Linked DNA regions of Homo sapiens: region 2 is linked to region 1. The links come from fine-mapping of genetic effects on gene expression. A gene starts in region 1. The other region holds a variant in brackets. All regions are shown on one strand. Distances are between the middles of the regions. Region 1 holds the start of CRYBB2 (crystallin beta B2). Region 2 overlaps KIAA1671.

Evidence for each region. PIP is the estimated chance that this variant, and not a neighbour inherited with it, causes the effect.
Region 2: its variant is fine-mapped to the expression of CRYBB2 in thyroid (GTEx, PIP above 0.99).

Annotation. Positions count from the first base shown.
Region 1 is chr22:25,218,323-25,221,230 of GRCh38, forward strand. CRYBB2 (crystallin beta B2) reads left to right here and starts at 1,317. Exons shown (of 6, transcript NM_000496.3): 1 at 1,317-1,344.
Region 2 is chr22:25,052,341-25,055,248 of GRCh38, forward strand. The region is part of intron 6 of KIAA1671; the gene reads left to right. Among named protein-coding and RNA genes, the nearest start is that of KIAA1671-AS1, 59 kb to the right of the region's middle. The variant G/A (reference allele first, on the strand shown) is at 1,457.

The DNA.
Region 1 (2,908 bases):
CCAGTGGTAGGGATCTAAGAGCAACTCACTCTAGGACAGTGGTTAAGAAACAGGCCGGGTGCAGTGGCTCATGCCTGGAATCCCAGCACTTTAGGAGGCCAAGGTGGATGGATTGCCTGAGCTCAGGAGTTTGAGACCACCCTGGGCAACATGTCAAAACCCTGTCTCTAACAAGATACAGCAAAAAAAAGAATTTAGCTGGACCTGGTGGCGCACACCTGTAGTCCCAGCTACTGGTGAGGCTGAGGCAGGAGAATCGCTTGAACCTGGGAGGCAGAGGTTGCAGTGAGCCGAGATCACACCACTGCACTCCAGCCTGGGTGACAGAGTGAGATTCCATCTCAAAAGAAAGAAAGAGAAAGAAAGAAAGAGAGAGAGAGAGGGGGAGAGAGAGAGAGAGAGAGAGAGAGAGGGGAGAGAGAGAGAGAGAGAGAGAGAGAGAGAGAGAGAGAGAGAGAAGAAAGAAAGAAAGAAAGAAAGAAAGAAAGAAAGAAAGAAAGAAAGAAAGAAAGAAAGAGAAAGAAAGAAAGAAAGAAAAGAAAGAGAAACAGCCAGGGGCCTTGAGAATAAAATGCACTCTCCATAATTGGCCTCCCTGGCCCTGCAACATCAGGCCCTGCCCACCTTGGCCACCTGGCACAGGCCCTATTTGTCACATGTCATGCTTTAGCTTTGTTAACCTGTTTTCAGGTCTTCTTGAAATACACCATGCTGGTTCCTTGTATATGGACCCTTTCTGCTTGGAACTGTCCCCCCACCCTGTTCCCAGGCTTCCTCTTCTCCATCCCTGAGGGATGCGCTACCTCCCAGGAGCTTTTCTGAATGGCCTGGGCTGGCGTAGGTCCTCTTCCTGACACTCCCCTGGAACAGAGATTGTCACCAAGTGGATGCCCAACAAATATTTGTTGAATGAATAAATGGGTAGATGAATGAAGCCCAGACTCTGCCAAACCACCCTTCTTTACTTGTTCTTCCCCAGGCCCACTGAGATGTTCCTCTGTCTGCCATGCCTCACGGCCTGACTGACCGTACCAGTGAACCCAGCGTACCCCTGGCCCTGGCAGCCGGACGGCTGATGCATGCAAAGCGGGCATCTCCTTGCCCAGCCGCCTGACCGCCCTGGCGCGGCCGAATCTGAAAGCTAATGACATTATTGTGCAGAGACACAATGTCTGTGGGCATTTGCTGACCCGAGCTTTGGTGAGAGCTTAATCCAGCATTCTCACCCTGCTTTTCGCAGGAGCACAGCGGTCACTCATCTTGGCACCGGCACTTCTGGGGAAGGTATAAATGCCACCTCCCGCTGGCCGAGCTTCACGGCACTCGCAGGGGCTGGTGTCACTGGTAAGATTGCCTCTCTTGCTTGTCTTCCCTTCTTTCTCTCATCCTCACCCCTGTCCGCAAGCATGGGAGCACCCAGATTCTGACAAGTGACTTTGGGCAGAGACTTCAATGCTGTTAGCCTCAGTTTTCTTTTCTGGTAACTGGGAAGGGGGTTAAAAAGCCTTCTTTATTGTAAGGATTCAAGAGAAGTTAGGGGATCATCCAGCACAGTGCCTGGCACACAGTGGGCATTGGGGCAATGTTCTTTATTATTAATATTAAACAGACTATCAGCATCCTTGTTTCGCCAGTCGCTGAGGAGGAGAATGTAACTGAGGGTTTTGCAAGAATCAAACCAGTGACAGTTCAGCATTGTTTCTAGGTGGGTGAGTCAGTTTTCCTCCACATCTGCAATTAGGGGGCACCCACTCTGTGCCTAGCCTCTGGGAGTGCTAGGGGATAGGATGCAGCCACAGGTATGTGACAGGTCCCAGCAACAGGTGATTTCAATGCCACTAAAGCATGGTAGAAATGACTCTAATAATGCCACAATTGCTGCCATTTGCTGCATGCTGAGTGTGTTCTGGGACCACGGCCAAGTGCTTCCGGTTTTATACATTACATAATTGAATCCTCACAACCTGTTCACAGGTATTATTAGACATCATTACTGTCCCCATTTTATAGAACAGGAAGTTGAGGCATAGGGAGAGGATGAGACCTGCCCAGAGTCTCAATTCTGGCAGGCAGCAGAGACTGCTCCTGAACTGGACCAACTGAGCTTCTTCAGTCTGTGAACACTCAGGACTGGGAAGTGATATGGCAGGACCTCAGGCACTCTGACAAGCCCAGAGGGCTGGTTTCTTGCGGGAGAGCAGTAGATTTGGCTGCCAAGGTGCTTAACTGCATTTCTTCCTCCTGGGAAACATCCAGTATTGGCCTTTCATGTGGAAGGGGCTTCTGGAAGCTGGCGTTATCTCTGAAGAGGGAGGCCAGGCTTCCTCTCTTACCCCTGGGGAAACACAGCCTGGTTTGACCACCCCTTCTGCAGGAAGGGGGAAGAGGCTGACAATTTTCCAGGCTTTTCTGATGTTCTCACTAGCTAAGGCAGGTCTACCCTGCTGCCTGCCACAGTGCCTGGATTTCTACCGTCGCACCCATTTCTTCTCTTTCTTGTAATGTGGGTTCTGTATCAGATGATTTCACTAATGGGGGAGTAAAACCAGTGGCAGAGAAGAGAAATCTAGGTACCAGGATGGGGAGAGGAGTCCCAGGGAGAGGGTGGGAGAAGGAGCAGGGGAACAGGGAACTTTGTGAGTTCCTAAACTGGGCACCACCACACCACCAAATACAGCCAATGCATAGGTTTTGTTTGTTCCACACAATTTTATTTAAGAAATTACTGCATAAAGGCAGAAGTTCTGGGATTGACCATTCTATATTCTGTGTGGTATCCATTGTCTGGGGTTGAGTGTTGGGAACCCACTTTGGACCTCATTTAAGCTCTAGTTTATTACTGCTCTCTTTCTTTGAGTAGACCTCGTTTTTCCCTCCTCCTGCAGCTGGCCTGGATAGAAATAAATGA
Region 2 (2,908 bases), 170 kb before region 1:
CATGGTTGCTGAACTACAGACCCTGCCACTTGCTAGAGGCCTTGAGCAAGTGAGTTTACCACTCAGGGCCTCACTTTTCCTCCTCTATAAAGTGGATAGTGATAGCAATAACAAAGCCTAACACTTACTATCGTTACATGTCATGTAGATACTGCTATTATTTCCACTTCACAGATGGGCAAACTGAGGCTCAGAGCCATTAAGTGTCTCTTCCAAGTTCTGGGTCTGCAGTCCATGCTCTTAAGTGTCTGCTGAACTTTCCACTCGTCTTACGTGGTAGCCCGGTGGGAGGACAGAGCCCAAATGAGATGATGCTTACAAAGCTCTTAGCACAGTGCCTGACACCGAGAAATGGCTTCACAAATCATAGCAGCTATTATTATTATTATTATTTGAGATGGAGTCTCACTCTGCCGCCCAGGCTGGAGTGCAGTGGCATAATCTCGATTCACTGCAGCCTCTGCCTCCCGGGTTCAAGTGATTCTCGTGCCTCAGCCTGCTGAGTAGCTGGGACTACAGGCGTGCACCACCACACCAGGCTGATTTTTGTATTTTCAGTAGAGATAGGTTTTGCCATGTTGGCCAGGCTGGTCTCAAACACCTGACCTCAAGTTTTCCGCCAGCCTTGGTTTCCCAAAGTGCTGAGATGACAGGTGTGAGCCACTGCACCCGGCTTATTATTATTTTATTATTATTTGCGGCCAGGTTTTTTTTCTATGCTCTCCCAAAGAGCTGATGGGAAAGACAAACATCCATAGCCTTAGAAGTTTTTCTGCAGTTGAGGAGACAGGCCCAGTGTAGGGAAGTGTCTTGTGTATGGTCCTGTGGCCTCTAGAGGCAGAGCTGGGGCTGGAGTTCTTCTTTGTGACTCCTTGGCCAGTGCTCTCTGTTTCTCCCCATCTCCCTTGTTACTTTCAGGGTTCCCCTCAGGACCTCGAGTCCACATGGCGAATCCAAGTCCTGTATCAGGCTTCCTCCCTCTCCTCTTTTCCCCAGGAAGTGAGCTTTGGTCTGCATTTTCACAGGGACCATAAAACACAGTGACTCAGTTGTGGACTGTGACCTCGAGTCACAGTTTACCCTGGAGGCCCATCTTGTGACGATGAAGTCAGAGATTCATCAGCTGGGAGGCTTCCTTGCAATGGGCCAGCGGGAGGGCCTCTGGTAGTCTCTAGAATTTTCTCCCAATCCCTGAAACCTATTGGTTAGCATATGCTGGCTCATTTGGTTCTTGAGTTTATTTCTTTTTGGGCCTACTATGCGCCAGGCCCTGCATGATGGGGCCTGGAGATTTTCTCCGTCAGCCTCCTGGAGTTCACAGCCCAGGGGTCTGAAAATGACCTGGGAGGGTCCAGTTAGGTGCAGGAAGTAGGAGGGGAGACATTTGGGACTGAGAACTCACACAGACAAAGGGGGGTGCTTGGAGGACCAGTTGGGCTGAGGTAGAGTGTTTAGG[G/A]ATTTTGCTCCTTTTTTTGACAAATATTTATCTGCATGTGGTAAGTGCTATGCTGGGCAGTGGGCTACAGTTATGACTAAGGCATAGACAATTAAGAAGGTAGGTAAATAGGCCAGGCACAGTGGCTCACGCCTATAATTCCAGCAGTTGGGGAGGCCTAGGCAGGCGATTCGCCTGAGCTCAGGAGTTCGAGACCAGCCTGGGCAACATGGTGAAACCCTGTTTCTACTAAAATACAAAAAAAAAAAAAAAAAAAAGAAGAATTAGACTGGCGTGGTGTTGCGTGCCTGTAATCTCAGCTACTCAGGAAGCTGAGGGGCAGGAGAATCACTTGATCCCAGCTACTCAGGAGGCTGAGGCAGGAAAATCGCTTGAACTCGGGAGGCGGAGGTTTTAGTGAGCTGAGTTTTCGCCACTGCACTCCAGCGTGGGTAACAGAGTGAGACTCCATCTCAAAAAAAAAGAAGGTAGGTAAATAATTGCAGTGGGTTCTAATAGCTAATTTTCTTTTTTTTTCTTAAACAACAGAAATTTGCTTTCTCACAGATACACAGGCTAGAAGTCCAAGATGAAGGAGCTAGCAAGGCTGGCTTCTAATGAGGCTCCTCTCCGTGGCTGACAGCTGTGTCCTTCATTTGTCTTTGCGTAGCCTCTTCTGTGTATGCAGGGTGGGAGGTGGGTGATAGGTAGATGTCTCTGGTCTCTCTTCCTCTTCGTTTGCCAGTTTATTACAAAAGATAAGCTGTAGAAGCAGAGATGCGTAGGGTGAGGTATGGGGGAGGGAGTGCAGAGCTTCCATGCCCTCCCTGGGCACGCCACCCTCCAGGAACCTCCCTGTGTTCAGGTATCCGGAAGCTCCCTAATAGCTACTGTTTATTGAACATTTACTATATGCCAGGCATCATGTCATGTGCTTTAATTTAATTTGAATTTGTGTAAAGTCTCCCTGGAGGAGGGAGGGGGTGTCTCCACTTGGGGAGGGCTAGCTGAGAAGCAGGAGTTCGAGACCAAAGAGTCTGAGTTCTAAGTCTTGAAGGCTGAGCAGGTGTTTGCCAGGTAACTATGGTCTGGGGAACAGTGGTTTGCCCCTGATCGAGGGAACAGCATGGGCAGAGGTTTAGAGGCGTGAAATTGTGCTCTATACAACGGATGTCATCTGGGGTCCTTTAAACTTGACTTCCACGTGACCCTCCTGGACACCCGCAGTGTTTGGTTTTACACTGAGCTCAGACTTTCCCACATCTCTAACTGGTGAAACTGTGGCCCTTTGCTTCTGAGGCTGGTGCTGTGTCATCGTCATGCCAGCATCTTTGTACGCAGGATCTGCCAGGGCAAAGGTTGAGAGGTTTGAGAGCATTTGGACCTGATGACTTTGTTATTAAGACTGGAAAAAGGAGGGGAGGAACATTTGGATTCTGCTGACAGCAGTGGTAGTCCTTGTGAGTGTAATCA